Homo sapiens: one gene and its partners. The gene in region 4 interacts genetically with the main gene of each other region. Each region holds a gene or a part of one and is shown on either strand. Other genes may lie near its edges. The genes, in order: SERPINB4, UFSP2, EMC7, TRPC6, PDCL and MARCHF5.

The links.
Region 1: changes in TRPC6 (region 4) and SERPINB4 together harm fitness less than expected from each alone (positive genetic interaction), as found in Homo sapiens cells (one large-scale study listed by BioGRID).
Region 2: changes in TRPC6 (region 4) and UFSP2 together harm fitness less than expected from each alone (positive genetic interaction), as found in Homo sapiens cells (one large-scale study listed by BioGRID).
Region 3: changes in TRPC6 (region 4) and EMC7 together harm fitness less than expected from each alone (positive genetic interaction), as found in Homo sapiens cells (one large-scale study listed by BioGRID).
Region 5: changes in TRPC6 (region 4) and PDCL together harm fitness less than expected from each alone (positive genetic interaction), as found in Homo sapiens cells (one large-scale study listed by BioGRID).
Region 6: changes in TRPC6 (region 4) and MARCHF5 together harm fitness less than expected from each alone (positive genetic interaction), as found in Homo sapiens cells (one large-scale study listed by BioGRID).

The regions. Positions count from the first base shown.
Region 1 is NC_000018.10:63,641,457-63,645,403, reverse strand, and holds the start of SERPINB4 (serpin B4), read left to right. Parts: upstream 1-1,147; 5' UTR 1,148-1,195; intron 1,196-1,781; exon of another isoform or gene 1,782-1,800; 5' UTR 1,801-1,826; coding exon 1,827-1,991; intron 1,992-2,186; coding exon 2,187-2,243; intron 2,244-3,515; coding exon 3,516-3,644; intron 3,645-3,947. UniProt on the Homo sapiens protein: May act as a protease inhibitor to modulate the host immune response against tumor cells.
Region 2 is NC_000004.12:185,412,465-185,415,964, reverse strand, and holds part of UFSP2 (ufm1-specific protease 2), read left to right. Parts: intron 1-97; coding exon 98-255; intron 256-617; coding exon 618-810; intron 811-2,092; coding exon 2,093-2,239; intron 2,240-3,500. UniProt on the Homo sapiens protein: Thiol-dependent isopeptidase that specifically cleaves UFM1, a ubiquitin-like modifier protein, from conjugated proteins, such as CD274/PD-L1, CYB5R3, DDRGK1, MRE11, RPL26/uL24, TRIP4 and RPL26/uL24.
Region 3 is NC_000015.10:34,088,363-34,091,862, reverse strand, and holds part of EMC7 (endoplasmic reticulum membrane protein complex subunit 7 precursor), read left to right. Parts: intron 1-1,407; coding exon 1,408-1,546; intron 1,547-3,500. UniProt on the Homo sapiens protein: Part of the endoplasmic reticulum membrane protein complex (EMC) that enables the energy-independent insertion into endoplasmic reticulum membranes of newly synthesized membrane proteins.
Region 4 is NC_000011.10:101,577,508-101,581,007, reverse strand, and holds part of TRPC6 (short transient receptor potential channel 6), read left to right. Parts: intron 1-3,500. UniProt on the Homo sapiens protein: Forms a receptor-activated non-selective calcium permeant cation channel. Probably is operated by a phosphatidylinositol second messenger system activated by receptor tyrosine kinases or G-protein coupled receptors.
Region 5 is NC_000009.12:122,818,589-122,822,088, forward strand, and holds part of PDCL (phosducin-like protein), read right to left. Parts: intron 2,049-3,500; coding exon 1,497-2,048; 3' UTR 1-1,496. UniProt on the Homo sapiens protein: Acts as a positive regulator of hedgehog signaling and regulates ciliary function.
Region 6 is NC_000010.11:92,350,167-92,354,464, forward strand, and holds the end of MARCHF5 (E3 ubiquitin-protein ligase MARCHF5), read left to right. Parts: intron 1-924; coding exon 925-1,041; 3' UTR 1,042-3,798; downstream 3,799-4,298. UniProt on the Homo sapiens protein: Mitochondrial E3 ubiquitin-protein ligase that plays a crucial role in the control of mitochondrial morphology by acting as a positive regulator of mitochondrial fission and as an important regulator of immune response.

The DNA of each region.
Region 1 (3,947 bases), on a different chromosome or scaffold from region 4:
GTAAAATTAGAAAGCTGCCATTTAAAATGGCCCGTCTGTTTCAATTGCTCTTCTCAGTGTCAGCCTGTTAACTCAATGTGTTAGTCTGTTTTCATGCTGCTGATAAAAACATACCTGAGACTGGCAAGAAAAAGAGGTTTAATTGGGCTTAGAGTTCCACGTGATTGGGGAGGCCTCAGAATCACAGTAGGAGGCAAAAGTTATTCTTACATGGTGGCTGCAAGAGAAGATGAGGAAGAAGCAAAAGAAGAAACCCCTGATAAACCCATCGGATCTCCTGAGGCTTATTAACTATCATGAGAATAGCACAAGAAAGACCGGCCCCCATGATTCAATTACCTCTACCTGGGTCCCTCCAATAACATGTGGAAATTCTGGTAGATACAATTCAAGTTGAGATTTGGGTGGGAACACAGCCAAACCATATCACTCAGCAAGGCAGATAACTTTCTCACTGAGCCTATGCAACAGAAAACCATCTGGGATGGTTGTAAGGGGCACAGGAAGTGACTGGTAGGATCACTGCCAAAGCTGAGCACTCAGGAGAAGGCAATAGAATCCTATTCTCCATAGTATGCTATAAGATACTGAAGTACACTTCTTCACTATCTCTTTGGACTTAGAATTAGCACTACATTCCTTGTTATACAGAAAAATTACTAAGGAAATTCATAGGATGACAAAAACTTTCAGAACTGAAAAACAGGAAATGTAAGCTTTTTAGTTCTTTGGTATTCGAAGTATGCCTAAAAGACAATGCAAAATCCAAGAAAAGAATGGTGGGGTTTTTGTTTGTTTGTTTTTGTTTTTGTTTTACAGCTGGAGTAGAATACAAAGGGATGGAGTTGAAACAAATGAGAGGAAATTGGAATTCTAAACTTATTCTCATTGGCATTAGAAAGGCACCTACATGTATTTCACATGAGCCGGTGACTGCTGACTTGCATTCTTATTTTTTCCCTATAGATTAAAAAGGAGGTACAATGGTAGAACTGTAATCCTGTCCTTTGTCATAAATTTTCATATTCATAAAGGTGAGTGTTAGCCCGCTTGTGAAATCTGAAGTTGAGTAACTTCAAATACTAACCACAGAGGGAAAGGCAGCAAGAGGAGAGGCATAAATTTAGGATCTCACCCTTCATTCCACAGACACACACAGCCTCTCTGCCCACCTCTGCTTCCTCTAGGAACACAGGTAAGAGCTTCAAGCCTCTCCAGCTTAATAACATGAATTATTTTTGAGAATAATAATGATACTGTGTTCTATATCATGCATCTCCTGCATTCTGTCTGATTATATTTTACTTATTCTGCCAGAGCAAAATTAAAATACCTATTTCATCTGATTTGTCCTTTATCTAAATTGCTTAGTTCCAAGTAAACCAAGGCACTTTTAGGAACACAGAGGGAGAGTGCCTTGCAGCCAGAGAGTCTTGAAGGAGATGTCAGGGACGCATCTTAACAGCTGGTTGGATGTGATCCACAGAGGTCTCCTGTTAGCATTCATTGTAAAGCCATCCTACCTAGCTCTAGTGTAACCAGCAATGAAAGAAAGATAAAGAGGGTCGATTACTTATTTACAATAGTCTTTAAAAACGTAGTTTTGTAAGCCTTCTAATTAGGACATTAATATATTTAATATATGCACATTGTAGAAAGATTGAAGCGTTAAAAATAAGAGAAAAACTTTAAATGTCAAAATCTCACAACCCAGATATATCATTTCTTTAAGAAAATTGTACTACAAAATACCATTCCATTTATTAAAGTCATTCTGACAGGAATCTGATGCTTTTCCAGGAGTTCCAGATCACATCGAGTTCACCATGAATTCACTCAGTGAAGCCAACACCAAGTTCATGTTCGATCTGTTCCAACAGTTCAGAAAATCAAAAGAGAACAACATCTTCTATTCCCCTATCAGCATCACATCAGCATTAGGGATGGTCCTCTTAGGAGCCAAAGACAACACTGCACAACAAATTAGCAAGGTAGCTATCAGCATCATTACGTTGTCCTGTTGCAGTTTTTCTCTGGTTCCGTCGGCTAGCACGCAGATGGTAATAGATGTGGTGGTCTGATGGGTAGCACAGGGGGCTGTGCAGGAATTCCCATAACTGTGAGACCACTGACTTAAACAGATCTTTTGAGTAAAGTTTTCTTGTCCCGCTTCATGTCTCTTCCAGGTTCTTCACTTTGATCAAGTCACAGAGAACACCACAGAAAAAGCTGCAACATATCATGTGAGTCACAGAGCACTATGGTTCAGCTTTAGATCCCTGAACAGGTCATAGTTTAAACCTGGAACTTCACAAAAACTAAGAAAAGGCCAGTTTTAGGGAAAATCTTGGACACAAAGATTGAGACATACAGAGTGGGTTGGCATTTCATGGCACATAATTATTATTCCTCATTTCTGCGTTACTAAAAGACAGTCAGCACTGTACCTCAGAGCATAGGTCTGGATCAGGATAGGCTGGGTTCAGACTCCAGCTTTGCTCTTCACAAATGATGAATAAGAGCAGGACACAACTGCTCGGAGTCCCAGTGACCTCATCCCAGAAAACTAAGGGTAAGAAAAAATCTGACTCAATACATGCAAATACATGCAAATGTTTACAACAGTGCCTTGCCCATAAAAGTCATAATAAATGTTATTATTATTATAAAGTAGCTATAATTATACTAATCATAATAATGTGAAAATAATTTAATTTTCATTGAGTCATTAATGAGATTCAGAGGAATAAGCACAAGTCCAAGTATATTTTGGAAAATGATTGCTATGGAATATATTGGTTTAGAGCCTTAATAGTGCAAAATGCTTTGCTGGAAGGTAGAAAGTTCTAGATTTAAACAGGCTTAGGTTCAAAACTTGGCACTTCTAATTTATGTCTCTATAAACAGGGTTTTTTTCCCCATTCTCTGAGCTTTCTTGTGTTCATCTGAATTGAACTAAAGACTTAGAGTTACCCATGTAAAGTCCTTAGCCATGGACCTGGCATACACTCTTCTTACGTGCAGAGAATGACCATCATGAGGAAAGAGCCACAGATCAGTCAATGTGTCCTACAAGATAATAGCACCAACAGGTATAACAGGGCTTCCTGGCATAATCTATTTAAAATATCCAACCTTCAACATACTCGTATCCTTGATGACTGTTAGAAGTGAAATATGGTCCTTGCCCATAAGGAGCTGAGAGTTTAACTGGGAAGCTAAACCTAACCCTTTAAACCAACAAGGAGAAAATCTACTGGTAGACAGCGCTGCATCTTTAGTTCAGAAGAGAAAAGATTGCAGTACGTTAGAGCAAGAAGAATTTTCTGGAAGAAGTCAAATATAAGGTGGATTTTGAAGGGTATTTGAGGTGAAATACACCAATTATCAGGGAATAACATCAAAGGTCCTCAATGAGACTACCAGCATTTAGGGACTGATCTAACAGACTTAGCATGGGTTTAGTATTTACATTGATACAGCAATTGAATGATCTCCCTTTTTGATGTTTGAAGGTTGATAGGTCAGGAAATGTTCATCACCAGTTTCAAAAGCTTCTGACTGAATTCAACAAATCCACTGATGCATATGAGCTGAAGATCGCCAACAAGCTCTTCGGAGAAAAGACGTATCAATTTTTACAGGTAATTTCACCTGGCCTACCCACATTTCATTTGCATCCTGATGTCTGTGTCTCTGAGTGGCCAAATGGAAGAAAGCAAGGCAGATGAGCCTGGCCGACTCAGGTGGAGAGCATTTACTCAGAGTGCATTAGCTCCATTTCCACAACTCTCCCCCACTGGAGTGTCCCAGACCCCAACGATACATCACTGAAGTGTGGATTTAGGGATAATCTTGTGATAAAAGAGGAGGTTGTGTAATAGAGTGAGTAAGAGTAATAAGTAATAAGATACCATCGATAAACTGGCACTGACTCAGTCACATAC
Region 2 (3,500 bases), on a different chromosome or scaffold from region 4:
CTTAATAATAAATACATTTTTGAAAAGTCTTTTTACTTACTCTTTATATTTAGTGTTTAATGCACTACAAGTTGACTATTACTGTTTATCTATATAGCATCAAATAGTAAATATAGATCTTATGCTGGAAATGTCAACCTCCCTGGCAGCTGTAACGCCCATCATTGAAAGGGAAAGCGGAGGACACCATTATGTTAATATGACTTTACCTGTCGATGCAGTTATATCTGTTGCTCCAGAAGAAACATGGGGAAAGTAAGTATTTTTATAGTACCACTGCCACATTTGAATGAGGGCCCTTCCCCAAACCCATGTTTGTATATCCTGTAGGTATACCTAAGGTGTGATTTTCTCCTTGTTTATTATTAACCTAAGAGCCATCTATTAATTAAATGGTTATTTGGAGGAAGTAGGGTAGCATGCTAAAACCTGGAGGATTTCCCTTTATCCACAAAGAGCAAATACACAGTTTCTTTTATAATGTATAATTCAGACTTCCTTTAGCAAACCTGGTCCAATCAAGTTTTTTACTATACTAAGGATATATTAGCTCTGTACTTTTCTTTATTGTAGTCACTATAACTTTTGTTAATACACTTATATATTTCCCCCCACAGAGTTCGTAAACTCCTGGTTGATGCAATTCATAATCAACTAACTGACATGGAAAAATGTATTTTGAAATATATGAAAGGAACATCTATTGTGGTCCCTGAACCACTGCACTTTTTATTACCAGGGAAAAAAAATCTTGTAACAATTTCATATCCTTCAGGAATACCAGATGGCCAGCTGCAGGCCTATAGGAAGGTAAAACCAGTTCATCTATTCTTAGAAAAAACAATAATGACTATCATTCATTTTGTATTTAATTATATATTTCCACTAAATGGAAGGTATTTTGTGATTTAACTTAAAAGTGTGGAATTTAGACTATTCATTTTACACATTATTTAATTTCTGTTCTCATGAAACTTTAAGTAGTATTAATGACAAAATGTTATGTTGAACCTATATGTAACATTTTAATTTTAAATGCTCGGTGTGGTTCATATATTCTGTGAAATTTTAATATTTTTCCATAATGAAATATAGAAATGGTGCTTACATGCCTAAAGTTGCTGGTATTAACAGATTTCTATAACTTTCCGATTTGTGAAAGAGACAAGATTACAGTTAGGGAAGGAAAATGATAACTTATGCTAATTCTGAATAGGATTTATGGTAATACTCCACAAGTAAGGTTATTTGGGCTTTATTAGAGGAATTTTGGAGAAAACATGACCAGCATTCAAAGTAATGAGATTTACTCATGACTGGTTTTGGAGTGCATCTTTTTGATATGTGGACTCGCTTAGAACCTATCAAATTAGACCGTGGAGCATCTTCCTAATTTCTGTCCTTAGGGAGAGCGAGAATACCCTGACCCTCTGTATGTGGAGGTGACTTGGTTTGTAGAAGCAATAGCTACAGGAGCTGATCTTTTAAAACCACTGGAGTACAAGATATGATAAAGAACATGTCAAACTTTTTAAAATACCTATTACATGTTTTTATATAGTTGGGAAAATAACACATTTTAAACATATATGTGTATTTGTTTTCCTGCCATATTGGTTGGCTTTAGACCACTAACTTCTACTCTGTAGTTTAATCACTACCACTTACAATATAAAATATTTGTAAGGCACTCGACACAATTTTGCAAAATACTTTGATATAATTATTGTTAATTATAATTTACTCATTTACAAGGCTATTTCAAAACCAGTCTTTAGCCTGGATGTATTTTAACAGACTATGTTGTAATAAATAATTATTTAAAAATTAGTTCTCTTACTCTAACAATTTATATTCATTTTTCTCTGTTCCCTTCCAGTTTCTACCCAGATACAGACGTAAACGAAAATAAATCTTACTTGGTTTTAGTTCAGTTTTCACCATCTTTGATGTTAGTGAATTAAACCATAAGTGTTTGGAAACTTTTATAACCTATATATAATTTTCCATGTTTAATAACATCTTTATTTATTGACTAGGAATCTAAATCACCAACATTTTTTCTTTTTCTGTTGATTCTGATTTATTTTAGGAGTTACATGATCTTTTCAATCTGCCTCACGACAGACCCTATTTCAAAAGGTCTAATGCTTATCACTTTCCAGATGAGCCATACAAAGATGGTTACATTAGAAATCCACATACTTACCTTAATCCACCTAACATGGAGACTGGTATGGTGAGTTTAACTAATTATTTATGGGAGTCACTGGATCAGTAATGTTATTAGTTGTTTTTTGTTGGTACCCAGTAGGAGACTTGATTCATTATGTATTCATTCCTAAAACATGATTTATCACCCATCTCTGTTAACAGACATTGCTTAAGATAGCAGTAATTAAAAATGGTCTAGAAAAGTTAGTAATAGGTAGATATACCACATTTATCTTACTAAAATTCTCTTATTTCTTTAAAGGCTTGTCCCATTTTTTTTCATTCTGAACCTGAGAAATCATGCTAATTAAGGGCATAGTCTACCCAAACCACACTGTAGGATAAATCTTTTTTTGTTTTTTTGAGACAGAGTCTCGCTCTGTCACTCAGGCTGTAGTGCAATGGTGTGATCTCAGCTCACTGCAACCTCCGCCTCCTGGGTTCAAGCAATTCTCCTGCCTCAGTCTCCTGAGCAGCTGGGGTTACAGGCACCTGCCACCACACCTGGCTAATTTTTGTATTTTTAGTAGAGACAGGGTTTCACCATGTTGGCCAGTAGCTAGGGTTACAGGCACCTGCCACCACACCTGGCTAGTTTTTGTATTTTTAGTAGAGACAGGATTTCACCATGTTGGCCAGGCTGGTCGTGAACTCCTGACCTCAAGTGATCCGCCATGTAGGCCTCCCAAAGTGCTGGGATTACAGGCATGATTCACCATGCCCAGCCACTGTAGGATAAGTCTAATGAGGAACTAGACTTATTTTCCATGTAACATATACCCGGTTGCCAGGGATAGATCCTCCCTAAAGGTAGCTCAAATAAGAGTGAATTGGCGGAGGGTGGTGGAAGGGTTACTTTAAGGATACATGGAGGCCAGTGAGAAAGGACCTTATAAGGCATCCAAGATTAGGAATACCAATAGAGCTGGGCCTCTTAGAAACAGCAGCCCTGTGACTAGCAGGTGTCTTCAGTCTCTCTCAAGGACTCCGTGGATACCTTGGTGGCATTGCTATTGCTTTCTGTGTATGCTTGTGATCCTAACTGGCCTGTTCTTAACTTTTACTCTGTCTGCTCCACCTCATACCCTCTGTATCCTCACTGTTTCAGCTTGTGTGTCACTTTTTCCTGTTCTTCCTCAGCTGCCCAGTGTATGCCTCATTCCAACTGCATTTCCTGCTCCTGGCTGCCTGGCTAACTCTGCACCTCTCAGTTCAGATTCCCAAGAGAAAGAAAACTTGGCTATCGTATGGTGGCATTTATTAATACCTTCTGAGCGTCCAGGACT
Region 3 (3,500 bases), on a different chromosome or scaffold from region 4:
TTATTAATAAATGCATAGCTCCCCCCACAACAAAGGAAATCCCTAGGGGATAAACTATAAAGCACTTCCCCACCTGGAGATTTTGATATTCTCTAACCCAGAAGGCTTAGATTTAATTAGCAATGTGCAGGGAGGAGGCAAGCCATGGGCTTGCTTGGAGTCAGAATTAGATCTAAAATTTGGTCCTCCCTTTGACCTTTGGTACTAAAATGCAGAAGGCCCTGGATTTTCGGAGGGAAAAGTCTGATGCTGGCCTTTGGGGGAAAAAGTCTCCCCTGAAAACTGATAGTTACGCTCCTACACTCATTACAAGTTGGGGTATGAATTTATTACTTTCTGCATAATCCAGGAACTTCCAAGCTAAGCAATGAACAAAATAGTTTCTGTTTATAATTCCCAAATTCCTGGCAGTAACAAATGCATAATCTCTCTGGAAGGAGATACCCTTTGTATCTCTTTACTTAAATAAAGGTAAATAAAGTCTACTAAACTTACAAAGAACCCAAGAAAACAGTCTACATTGAGTCAGCAAATAAATCAGACCTCTAAGAACTTTAAATAGTAGAATTATTAGATATAGACTGTAAAATAATTTAATGTATATTTAAAGTACTTAAGGAAATAAAAGACTGCCATAGAAATGATATACCAAAATAGGCTATAGATATTTGAAAAAAGAATAGAATAGAATCTCTACAATGAATATAGGCATTGAAATGTACAACTAAATGGATGCATTAAGAAACTGAGCAGAAGTCTGATGAAGTGGGAGACAGATCAGAAAAAAAATTTCCCAACACAGCAATGACAGTGAAATAGGAGAGGCAGTTTTCAAAAAGTAAAATGGATCCTATGTAAACATGGATGAGAATTTTGATTAAAATTAGTGCGTCTTTGGTGAAAAATGTAGCGTTACCTATAGCACTGCTGCAGTGCTTTCTTGCATTATAACATTTTCTGGCAATATAGCCTTAAAAATTGGTTACATCCAATAATGCATTTCTTAGACCATCAAAAAAATAAAATCCAGTATTTTTGTATGGTATAATGAAGTAAATTCATTACTAAATATAATCAAATAACTTTAGCACCAGAAGGATTCTAAAAGAACTTTTGACATAAATAGAAGTTAGGGAACTGATTTAATCCCACAGGTCTAGGTAATGACAGAGCTGCAGCTAGAAGATTCCAAGTCTAGCGTTTTTTTCTCTGTGTTTTGCTGCATATTTTAGACATGTAGATAAAGCTATTTTGGTCAGATTTTCAAGATCAAAAGTTTAGGTTTTAAAGCATTTTGGAAAAAGCTGAAAGTGTGTATAAGGCATTGCTAATATAATATAAGCAGTTCTTTTAACCAGTAATGTTTTTAATGGAATTACTGTTGCTTTCCCCATGTTGCTTTATCAGAGCAAGATATGTGAATTACATCAAAACATCAGAGGTTGTCAGACTGCCCTATCCTCTCCAAATGAAATCTTCAGGTCCACCTTCTTACTTTATTAAAAGGGAATCGTGGGGCTGGACAGACTTTCTAATGAACCCAATGGTATGTATCAGGCTAAAATAAAGCACTTTACTAATACCTAATTTGCTTCTAGGCAGTGGAAACTTCAAACCTCTGTGAGATAGAAAGCTGAGGTCAGATTGGTGGATGAAAGGATAATTGTGAATAATTTGCAGATTTCAGAAGAATAGTGGCTTTGGGAATACATAATGAAGAGAATATAATGAGAATTGCACTGTAGATTTGATTATTGAAATGTGTAATAGAAATTGGATAAATATTTATAGCATGTTTTACATTTCAAATAGAATAAGAATACTCAGTAAGTCAGTCATACCTGGAGCTGTCTCATTCTTCATACTACCTGCGTATTTTTTGTTTGTGGTTTGTTTTGGCTTTTTTTAGACGGGGTTTCGCTCTTGTTGGCCAGGCTGGAGTGCAATGGTGCGATCTCGGCTCACCACAACCTCTGCCTCCCAGGTTCAAGCGATTCTCATGCCTCAGCCTCCCAAGTAGCTGGGATTACAGGCATGTGCCACCACGCCCGGCTAATTTTGTATTTTTAGTAGTGACAGAGTTTCTCCATCTTGGCCAGGCTGGTCTTGAACTCCTGACCTCAGGTGATCTGCCCGCCTCGGCCTCCTAAAGTGCTGGGATTACAGGCGTGAGCCACCGCACCCAGCCATACTGCCTGCATATTATTAGTCCATTGATGAATGTGCCATCATTTATTAACCAGCCCCTATTGATAGCACAAGTAAGGATTTCTTCCTCTTTTTTTAACATGTGTAGTGAAGAGAAAAGTTATTCTATGGTAATTTAAGTAGTTGGCATTATGAACCGATGTTATGATACTCACTAATAATAAAACACTAATAGCATGCATTCTTTAAAAATTTGTTTTTATTTTTAATTATTATAGGTGCCTAATAGATGTACATTTATGAAGTACATATGATGTTTTGATATAGGCATACGATGTGTATTAATCACATCAGGGTAATTGGGATATCCCTCACCTTAAGCATTTATCATGTTTTTATAAATGTTAGGAACATACCAATTCCACTCTTTGATTGTGATTTTAAAATATACAATAAATTATTGTTGACTATCATCAAGAAAACAGTTTTTAGAAACAAATCGACCTTTTCTTTTGCTGTTTTTAAAAATTGAATTGCTGTCTTAGAATTTGTCTAAGTAGGCCAGGCGCGGTGGCTCACGCCTGTAATCCCAGCACTTTGGGAGGCTGAGGTGGGCGGATCACAAGGTCAGGAGTTCGAGACCAGCCTGGCCAACATGGTGAAACCTCATCTCTATCAAAAATATAAAAAGTTAGCTGGGTGTGGTGGCGGGGACCTGTAATCCCAGCTACTTGGGAGGCTGAGGCAGGAGAACTGCTTGAACCAGAGGGGGTGGAGGTTGCAGTGAGCCAAGATTGCACCACCACACTTCAGCCCGGGGAACAGAGCGAGACCGTGTCTCAAAAAATAAAAATAAAAATAAAAGAATTTATCTAAGTTTTGGTCATAATCCTTGCTGATAGCTATTTAGATCACACATGATCTGTTTTCAGAGGCTGTATATCCCCTAGGGAGGAATAAATTAGTACCTAGAATCTGTAATCAGAGATAAAGAGGCGGGGGGAGACTGGATGGAAGAAGTCAGCAGTGAAACTCCAGAGCTTATTCACCTTCCATGTTCTCATTTCTGAAATTCCGTGGAAGTGTATCTAGTGCTCCAGTGCTTGATGCTTCTAGGTCATTTTTCAAAACTGGTCTGCTAAAGTAGGTCAGTTTTCCAAGAACCACAGTCACCTGAAAAGAGCAGTTAGCTTGCCATCAGATCACCAATCCCATTGCCAGACTATAGATTAAAAAAAAAAAAAAAGGGAATAGATAGTTCCATTTGCAAACTATTTGTGTTAAATAACACTGTAACTCTGCAAAAAGATAGGTGGGTGGCACAACTATGAAGTGAGGTGTCTATAAAGTCC
Region 4 (3,500 bases):
ATTTTAAGTTTTTCTAGTTGAATAATCAACTAACAGAAAAATTTTAACCAAGAAACAAAAGTACTTCACACCTATGATGTATGAGAAAGAGCTAAAGAAAATTACTCCCTCTGGTAGAGTAGAAATCAACTCTTCCATATGCTTTTGACTTGTGATTTATACAATTTCATAGTGGGAGGTGTATCATTTCTGAAAGTGGCAATCACTAGTACATTTTAGATATGAATATTGCCATTTCTCAAATCATTGAGATTTTCCCTTATAAGATCCCAAGTCTTTGTAAGTTGTCATTTCTGTGGAATAAATTCTATGACTCTTGCCAAAAATTTCTGTTTCATAGTTTTCTTATTTAGAAAAATTTTTTACATATATTTATGGGGCTTCAGTAGTAATGGGGCTTCAGTAGTAATGGGGCTTCAGTTTTTATTTATATTTATGGGGCTTCAGTTTTCAGTAGTAAAACTGAAAATTATGGTAAATTATCTTATTTGTGAGCAATTATGTGCAATAAGGCCTTAATAGTTAAATAAGGCCTTAATAGTTAAAATAGTAATAAATTGAAATGGTGTTCAGAAGAAAATGGCTCAGATTTTCTCTTTATTCAACTTTCAATAGCAAATCAATTAATATTCTCTATTGTGATCAATTTGTAATGGTGATTAGCAAGAAAGGCCCATGTCCTGCCAAGGTCCCAGGAGGCATTTCAGATTTCCTTTATTTAGAACTTTAAAGGTATGTTTACAGTTCATCACTGCTGAACTTGGGGAAGAATCCCAGACATTTAAAAAAGTTAAGCATTTCTAAAATCTCAGGATCTGAAAACACAGTCCAACTAAACTTTCTGCTTGGGAAGGAGTAATTGATTGATTATGAATAATGAAACAGTAAACTGTAAACTAAAGCACTGGCAATTCAGCTGACTGAGACAATCTGAAAAATTTATGGTTACAGACACCTGGCAGTACTGGATAAAAGATTTTAAATGATTTTAAAACATCTCCCAATTTTGTGAAAAATAAAAGGGTAATCTACCATGTGCTAAGAACAAAGACATTAAAAGCGAGTATAGATTGTGAAGTGATGATGTGGTTGCCCTGTGAGTTATGCGTCCCAGTGACGAAGAAGCCTGGAATCTGATGTCCATATGAGACAGAAAGAAGGTAAACTCTTGGTGCCAGATGAGGCAGAGAGCTGGAACTGAGATACCCCTGTGCCCTGCATAAAGCCATTAAATAAAAATGTAGGCTAGAAATATATGCCCACCAGCATACAGTGAGAACAGGAAACTTTAACAGTAAGAAGAAAAGAACACTCCCCTTGAGAATATCGTTTTTGGGGTTTTTGTTTTTATACCCTACCTAACTAGCCTAGAAATAGTCAACATGGAAAATACTCCTGAGGTTCCTATAAGAGTAAAACACAAAATCATTATGAAAGACTAGTATCAAGCATCTAGATTGCCTAGGCTTTTCAAGAAGAAAGCAAGTCCTGCTAAAGATATGCTTGCTATAATGAATAACAAAACACACAAGGAAACAATCGACCAAGAGTGAGAGTCAGTGGACCATGGACTCAATCGACCATGAGTGAGTAGATATAAGACATGCAGTAGTTAGTGGATTTTTTAAAAAGTTGAGATAATACAACCACATGAAAAAGAATCTTTAAAAGTACATATAAATGTTGACAATATAAAAGAATAAATCAAACCTTAAGAAAAAAATGACATTTTTAAAGAAAAGGACAAATAGAACATCTATAAGTAAAAAATACAATTCTTAAAAAAAATTAATGGAAGGGCTAAATGCAGATTAGAACATAATTGATGATAATACCCAAAATGCAGAGACATAAAAAATATTTTGTATGAACATCGTTAAGAGTAATGGAGCTAGAAGGTAAGAGTTCCAGGAAAAGAAAACATATAGAAGTGGGAGAGGCAAGACTTGAATAGATAATGGGTAAGGATTTTCCAGAAATAATGAATTTTCATGTTTATGAAGTATACCAATATTATTGTAAAACAGAAAAAAAACCCCATTTAAACATATCATTTAAATTGCAGAACACCAAAGACAAGAGGAAATACTAAAAATTAAAGAAAACAGAGATTTGAATGAGAGAGTTTTAAAATTCAAAGTATTTACAGTGGAAATGCACTCATAATATATTTTGATATTACCTTGGTTAAAGAATGTATAGCTTGTAAGAACTATGGCTTTTCCATTACATAAAAGGTTTACTCTCTTGTTATTAATGGAGTCAGTGCTCCATTGCTGATAAGGTCTCCGATGGATATGTACTAAATATTTTTAAAAGGTGACTTATTGCATCACAGTCTTAGAGGAAACTCAAAGTGATTCTTAATTATATCCTCTCACATGAAAAAAACAAAAAATGACTTTTAAAAAATGGGTCACAGATCCTTTAAAATTTTTATTGACTTCAAGAGGGTTTTGGGTGACCTGAACCCCATTTATGAAAATAAGATCCAGAGTTTGAATTCCCAGTTTAAGAAAGGTAATGTAATGTTAGAGACCACAAGTAAAATCCCCCACATATTGTTTTCTTTTCTCCAGGCAAAAAAAGTTAGTATTGAACACATTGATAATAAGGGAATGAAAAATTCAGACTGTAGGCTAGAGAATCTTTCCTGATATTACTTGCCAATAGGATAACTAGTCTCTTAAAGAAGTTTAAGATTGAAGAACATGGACTCAGGCCTATGCATCATATTAAATTATTATATCCTTGTTATCTCTCCCTTGTTTTTGGCAACTATGTTCATTGAAACATCTGTTACACATTTTTACATTTATTTGTTCACACGTCCTTTTCCTCTGACTAGAATGTAAGCCACAAGAAGTGGGTCTGTCCTTCATCCCCCTATCTTAACACAGTGCCTAGCAGAGAGAAGGTACCATTTAATCTATTCCTCAACAAAGAGATTTCCTCCTCCTTGATATTTATTCAAATAAGGAATAAAATGATGCCAGCTACTTTAATGAAATAGCATCTGGATCAGCTAAGTTGGGCAGAAGAGTGAATGTCCATATCAAAAGAGATACCTATATCTTGTATTCCAGCTGCCTGTCACAAAGACTCATCTTTCAGGGAATCTTTCACCAATCACTACTGCCACCAGCATACTACTCTTCTTTTAGCTCTCTAGCCTGAGGCTCTTCCGTTAAAGTTCCCTCTGCACACCTGAGGCGAGGCTATATCTTTACCAAAGAGAATTAATAAAAAGGGAAAAACTCCTGGCTGGCTATAACTGCTCTTCCAGCTCATTTATGGAGTCTCCTGGGGATTGACCCTTGCCTGGCCCCAAGCATTATCTATCTGGCAGCGAGCGTTCTTGTTTTCCCTCTGCAGACCGTCCTCAATCAATCTAGTCCTTTGTCCTAGCCCAGACTGAAGAATGACTGCCTCCCCACCTCCCGCCACAACCTTTTTCTTTGGTGTAATATCTATTTTCCAAACTTTATTTCTTTTTAAAA
Region 5 (3,500 bases), on a different chromosome or scaffold from region 4:
ACTCTGTTTGTTGACTAAATACTTTCAAGACTCTTTTACAGTTAGTCAATTCCTGAAAAGCCAGGAAAATCAAAATTGTGAATTTTAAGGCTAATATTTAATTCCAGATTACATTTCCCCTGACCCTAGAATATACATTTTTAAAGTTAAAAAAAGGAAAAAAACGCAAATGATAATTATTATAAATACATAGAAAAAAAGGCTATAAAAATGACTAGAAATATGACAAAAGGGATTAATTTTGGTTGGTGGAATTATATGGCTTTTAAGTCTTAACAGTGTTTATTACATTTTCTACAATGAACATCTATCACTTTTGTAATTTAAAAAAAGTATTTGCTATCTTTCTTTTTAAGAGACAACCATCAAGCAAATTATATCACATCTATACGATGGAATATTAATAGACATTTTTAAAAAGTTGTAGAATATTTAATAATATAAAAAAAGGTCTGATATATTATTAGCTGACCATACTATAGAACAGTATGTTCAGAATGATCCCATCGTTTTGTTTAAAAACAAACAAAATATCCATGTATACACAGAAAACACCTTGGCAGGAAACAGACCAAAATATTAATAGTGTTTTATTCTAGGTAGTAGGATTAGAGATTATTTTAATTTTCTTATTTTTGCTTCTGTTTTGGTCAGTTTTCCTCTACTGAATATGAATTACTTTTCCAATATGAAAAAAAAAAAAAGTTTTAAAAAAAATCTAGGTTAAACAAAAAGTTACCTTGTTAAACAAAAAGTTACCTTGTTAAACAAAAAAGAGACAAAGACAAGCAGGGGCATCTTACTGAAAGAACTTCCTTTACAAAGATTTCCAGCCCCACTCCAGCTCTAATGTTTAAATCCATAAACTACTTGTCTTCTAACATCACCAGGTCAGTAAGCATCAACCCTTCCTGCTGTTCCAGACTTAGTCATGCTGGAGGAAGACATGAAATCCAGCAGCAGAGGCCACCCCTCAGGACTGGGTGCGGTGGCTCACCCCTTTAAACAAGACCCTGGTGGGGAAAAAAAAAATCTAACCACCGTCTAAAGCTATGGAACTGATTACAAGTAAATATAATTTACAATCATTTGATTAAGAAAATGCACTATTTACGTTGCAAATAACACAATACCTACAGAATTATACTCTCAGACTTGGCAGAGACCTCTAAGATCATCTGAAGACAATTTCCAAGACCCTGTCTTTAGGATGCTTTGTAAATATTGACTGGAAACAATAACAGAGATGTCACACCACAGAATCTTAAGTAAACAGTTCAAAAGCCTGGCTTCCTGTTTATACAACTGTAAGTCACCTTATTGCTAGCTACAAGGTTATTCAGCATTCTGATTTAATCTAAGAATTTCTTTATTTTATGCATAATAAAAGGGACTACAAAGAACAGCTGAAAAGCCAGAAGACAAAGGAACAAAAATAAACAATGACGTGTATTCCAACCCAAACAATGAGAAATCTATGCAACTAGACTATCAGTTCAATCTATTTCCAGGTCGCTATCCTCACTGTGACACGTGGCAGAGTTACGCACAGATGTCAGCACCAAGACTTCCTTTTCTGGGAGTAATCCAAATTCCTGGAGAAAAGCTTCAAGGTCCACAGCAAAGAAATCATCCCCCAGCTGGTCAGTAACACGAACAAAATTGCCGATCAATTCACCCCCCTTATAGATCAGCAGGGCAGGAAGGGCATTCCTGGTGAACTGACTGCTGGCGCCAATAACTGAGCTCTTCACCTTGCAGAACTTGACAGCTGGGTACTCTGCGGCAAGGCAGATCATGCAACCATTCATGGCTTCGGTCCCTGGAATGCCATCCTCATAAATATGAACCATGATGACAATGCTTTTCTGTTCTTTATCAATCATGTCTAAAAACCCTTCTCCACTGGAGATCTCAAAAACCTGCTTGAATTGGGGCCCCTTGTGAAGCTGCTGCCGCATCTCTTCCATTCGCTGCTTCCGGTACTGCTGCAGAAACTCTTCATCATCTTGGTCCTCATTCATTATGGCAAACTCCTTCAGAGTCATCTGCAGGCGGACCAGCAAGTGAGCATAAATATGAAAACTGAACACTCGTGATAACAGTTAATATGGGCCGGGCGCGGTGGCTCACGCCTGTAATCCTAGCACTTTGGGAGGCTGAGACGAGCGGATCACTTGAGGTCAGGAGTTCAAGACCAGCCTGGCCAACATGGCAAAGCCTCATCTCTCCTTAAAAAAAAAAAAAAAAAAAAAAGTTAGCAGGGCATGGTGGTGTGCACCTGTGGTCCCAGCTACACTGGAGGCTGAGGCACAACAAGAATCACTTGAACCTGGGAGGCAGAGGTTGCAGTTAGCCAAGATCACACCAGTGCACTCCAGCCTGGGAGACAGGGTGATACCCTGTCTCCAAAAAAATAAAAAGAAATAAAACAGTTAACATGTACTACATGCTGATAATATATAAGGCACCATGCTAAGTACTTTACATGCATTATATCTCACTGAATTCCATAACTCCATCGGGAAGGGACTTTTAATAGCCCCACTTTATAAATGAGGTTCCAAAACTTGACATTATTTGAACAAGTTCACCCAGTAAGCATAAGACCAGTACTCAAACTAGATTTTAAAAACCCATGTTTTTAACTACAATATCACATTTCCTCTCAATCCAAATAGGCAGCATCATATAATCTCACTTCATGAGCTTATTTCTTTTTGTCAGTCTTGACAATATTTTATCTACTTTTTTTTTGAAAGATAACAAGACATTACAGAATTTTAGAAAAAACTCTCATAACCCCTGCCCCACACCATCCCCAAACACACACACACACACAGAGTCATATGGACTCTAAAAATTATTTTTATTACCAGTCATACTAAAATAGTTTTGCTTTTATAGCAGCAGCTGTGGGTGTACCAATTAAGCCATAACCTGCTTTCGAGACTTAGCACGATTATAAGTATTTCCTCATGTTTCCAAATATTTTTATGAAATTATATATAATGTGTCACTTTGCTTAATCACTTCCCTAATTCTGCCAGACAGTTTCCAATTCTGTTCTATTGCAGATAAATCAGCAGGACGGGAACAGCCTCTCACAAGACTGATCCATGTGATGATATGATGTTGCCTCATTCTGGCCTCTCACCTCAGTATCAGGAAGCAGCTGTGAGCAGCAGGCACAATGCCCAAGAGACAGCTTAAGCTACGAAAGCATCTTACCCCTGCCCCGGTGCAGCAAGACATCCTCGCTCCTCTCATAAAACCTAACTCTGCCTAATGTTGCATAGATTAGGGAACAGGGAGTGGGAGATCACACTAGATCAGAACACGTTGTTACTTTATCATAACCAGCAACATTCTGAGTTCACTATTTTACTTATTGCCAATTTTCCTCCCATCTTGCAGCCCTCCACTTCAACTCAGTCTACCAGAGTGGCTTCTTCTGACCTATTGAAGTCTTTGGCTAAGTGTAATGTCCTAAAATCAGC
Region 6 (4,298 bases), on a different chromosome or scaffold from region 4:
GAAATCTAAATCAAATGTCTGGACTTTTTGTTCCTGTAGTATGGTGATGGTAATAATCAGGATTATTGTGAGGATTGTATAAGTACTAGCACATAGTAAGCACTCATGTTGTTTGCTATTATTGTTACTCCCACTTCTCCCCTCTGGTGGCATGTAACCTGCACGGACCTTGGAGGACTGAACAAAGGGGGCAAACGTGGGAATAAAAGACAAAGACAAGAGAGTATATTTGGAAGAAGGGGTCAGGGGGCACCTTGCCTCTAGTGGACAAGGGCCCTGAGCTTTACACAGCCCTCTGTATTTATTAGGCAAAAGAGATAGTGAGAAGCAGGGGTGATTGTCGGGTAATTGTCAGTCCATTTGGCAGTTTGGTTCACAGCAGGCTTGCGAGACTGCATCATTTGAACAGTAGGCGCTAGATTTCCCAGTAGATAAGTTCAAGGAGCCCTGCACCAGGGAGTGATGGCCCCCAGCAAACCCTTTGGTGGCAGGCTCAGTGTGAGTTTACTCACATCCTGCATTCATGATAAACAGTTTGCTGTTTGGTCATATAGCCTCCAGTGGAATGCTGAGTTGGTCACGATCCCTTTGGCCTTTCTTGCTCCCAACAGTGGCAGTCTGCACATAGTGCCCTAGCATTCTTCTTTGTATATCAGAGTATATGTAGAACTACATGGAAGAAAGACTAGTCAGAAAGGATAATGGAGAAGGCATCTGTGTCCCCTGTTACCTGTAGTAACAGCGTATAGTCTGTCTCTCTCCCTATCTCATCTCCTAGTAGAAAAAGAAAACTGTTTCATTTGCAGTCATCTGAATTAGTTTAGCATCAAAGCCTACGTCTTTTGTGATCTAAATAAAATTATTTTTATTACTCTGTTTCTCTAAATCTGCATTATAAAAAGCTAATTTTCCTTTTTATTTTAGGGTGGAATTGCGTTTGTTGCCATAAAAGGAGCATTTAAAGTTTACTTCAAACAGCAGCAATATTTACGACAGGCACACCGCAAAATTCTGAATTATCCAGAACAAGAAGAAGCATAAAACTGACTTCTGGTTGTTCTGCAGTTCTCTCATCCTTATGAATCTGTTGTGTTGTTTTGATTCCATCATTAATGCACTTGTGGAGACTTGTGATAAGCTGCTGCTCCTATATTTTTTAAGAAATATAATAAAGCACTTAGGGCAGGGGAAATCATCTCGGTAATCATGGAACCTAAGGATGTGATTTGTTTTCATTGTTTGTATGTACTACTTTTATGGCAGTCATATGAACCATTATCTTAGCATGGTAAACCTGGGTTTTGTTCATATTTTCTCCAGACAGAAATGCAAAGATCAAACTGTGCAAATATTAAAAAAATGCACATGCTGTTTTATTCAAATGCCTCTTTTGTACATGTTCATGTTTAGTGTTTTCTCAGAATCAGCAACTCAAGGTACTATGAGGATTTTTCTCACTGACATAATTTGATTACATACTAAATAAGAGGATATGTTAATATGAGGAAATGTAAATTAAATTAGTTATAAATAAATAACCAAAAATGTATGTAAACATTCAAATGATTATCTGAACAAATGAGATTTTGTGGTGTTTTCTTTAACCCATGTGATGTCCTCCAAAATGTGTAGGGTAAAAATTCACAGGGCTTCCAGATCACTTTTTCAATATTAAATTTTATTTACATAATGTTGACATCTCATACTTCATGAAGTAATTTTGACTCATGCAGTCGTGTGTGTGTGTGTGTGTGTGTGTGTGTGTGTGTGTGTATTTGTGTGTTTCAGTGTTTCATCAGGTCCTTCCATCTCTGGGAGTTTTTTCAACCCATATTTCTAGAAATTACAGCTGCCAGTTTATAGTAGTTTGAGCAGAGGATGATTTGCAAAAATAAAAATAAAGTTATTTTACTCTCCTCTTGCATTGATTCAGTTATTGAGATATTCGTTGATCACCTCCTATTTCCCAGGCACTGTGCAGAGTGCTGTAGGACATAGTGGTGAACAAGACAGACTTGGTCCAAGCTCTTACAGAGTTGACAGTCTAGTTTCAGCACATAGAAAACCAGCAGTGAATAAACCAAGGTGAGGCCTTGAGCTCTTTGTTTTTATATTAATGAGGAGAAAAGTATGAAAACAAGAAGTCTTAAGTAAATATTGAGGTCATTGTTTTTGGCTTAAGTTTATTATAGAAAATCAACACTAATGTTTTTAGATTTTAATTGTCCTATTGATGAGGCTAGCACCTTAATCACTGTTTAGTTTTGTATTCATTTTTAAAAGCAATTATTGAAGCCATTTTCAATAGATTGGCCATTTTAATGTTCAGCAACCTGAATGGTTATTTTTGTTAATTAAAATTAAATTTTTAAGAGATATTTTCAAAACCCTATTTATTTTCTTGTTCACAGTAATGCATGTCAATAATAAATGTTTCCCCTTACTGATAAGCGGCCACTTTAGGAGTGTAGCAAATATAGATTGAGCTATGTTAGTTTGCAATAATATATGTTAACTTTAGTAATTAAAGACTGGTTTCTATAGTATGAATGTCTTAATTTTGAGTTATATGATGTTTATTTGAATGACTGTTGAACATTCAAATTTGTATTATTTGGAGATGAAGATTTGACTAACAGTGAGCCTTATTAAGAACACTACTACAGTTCTGAAGGGGAAATATAACATCTATGGTTATATATTTTAAAAACTTAGATTATAGGCTGTAATTATAAAATATATTGGCTTTTGTTTTCAATGTGAAAGATACATTAAATGGACACATATCTTGCAAAATTTTGTTGTATAGAACAGTTTTTAGGCAGCCTTTACTAAAGTTATGCAAACACACAGTTCCCCATTTACTACATTAATGCCCTTGACAGGGAGTAGCTGCTTGGTTTTATAGGTATTAGGGCTCATGAAGGCCGGGGAACAACTCTAATCCTTTTGGGGCAGGAGGGAGGGTTTTTTTAGGGTTGCGGGGAGGGAACTGCAAGTGCCTGAGGACCAGAGTGGCCTCTAGCCCCGAATTGAACACTTTTAAACCTAAAGAGCCTTATTATTATTAGCTCGAGAAATACCACATGCCAGTCTTCCCAGGAAGGTGACCTGCCTGACCATGAAGCAACAAAAGAGCATAGGCAGACTTAAAGTTGGATAGACCTGGGTTCAAATCATAGTTCAGCTTTCAATAACTGTATGTATGATTTTGGCTAAAGGATTTGACTTTCTCTCAACTGCAGTTTTCTTAATCTTTGAAATGCAAATAATGTTTATCTCAGAAGACTATTTCTAGGATTAACTGAGAGATTAAAGGAACAGCAGCACTTAGGCTCAAAATCGCCCCTACAAAGCAGTAGTTGTTTCTTAATTGCTAAGTAATCTGTTTGCACTCTAGGAAAAGTAAATGGAGAGGTAAAAGAAAGGCATTGGGGACAAATGAAAGAGATGATGTAGATTTTTCGGATGGGTGGGTATATTTTATTTTCCAGTTTATTTTCATATTTCTTTACTGTGTTATTTCTGGAAACTTTAATGTTTTAAACCTCTTTTATAAAATTCAATGACGACTACTAGAATTCTTTTCAAAAGTTAACTTATCTCCAAAGTGGCTGAAAATATTGTTTACCATTACATGATTATGAAATGACTGTGAAGAATATAAAATTAAACTTAGTGACTTAATTAGTCACTGCCTTGCTAACTTTGCTGTAATTTTTTTAAACGTCTTGTTTTTAATATAGCAAACTATCTCAATACTGGCTGGATTAGGTTAAATAAAGAATTTTTATGTTCTCTAGGTGTACTTTGTTAAATCTCAAAACATTCTGTACATACATAATTTTTTTTAATCACAGTTATCGAGATACTAGTTTTTGTAAGTAAAAGTAATCTGAATTTAAAAAAAAAACTGTATGGAAGAATTTGTCCTAATTTTGTAAACAGGCTAGCCTATATTCTAAGTATGTTCTAATGACTAAACTACATCCCCACTCACCCACCCTCAAAGCCTCTTGCACTGAGTATAATTAAGCAACTAGACAAGATCTGTGGGTGGTCTCATGCCATGATGTCTTAAAGTGTATTCGAGTGAGTTGGGAACACAAACTGCTTCTGAGATATTAAGAACTTAAATTTCTGAAGTAGAAGATTAGAATCCTCTAGAATGAGTTAAAGGTCTTTTCCTTGCATCCATTTGGGGATTATATTGGTTTTAAGTCATTTCATTACCCCATCTGAGAGACAGATGCTAAGAGGAGAAAGGGCATAGAATTGAACAGTCCTGGATGCATATG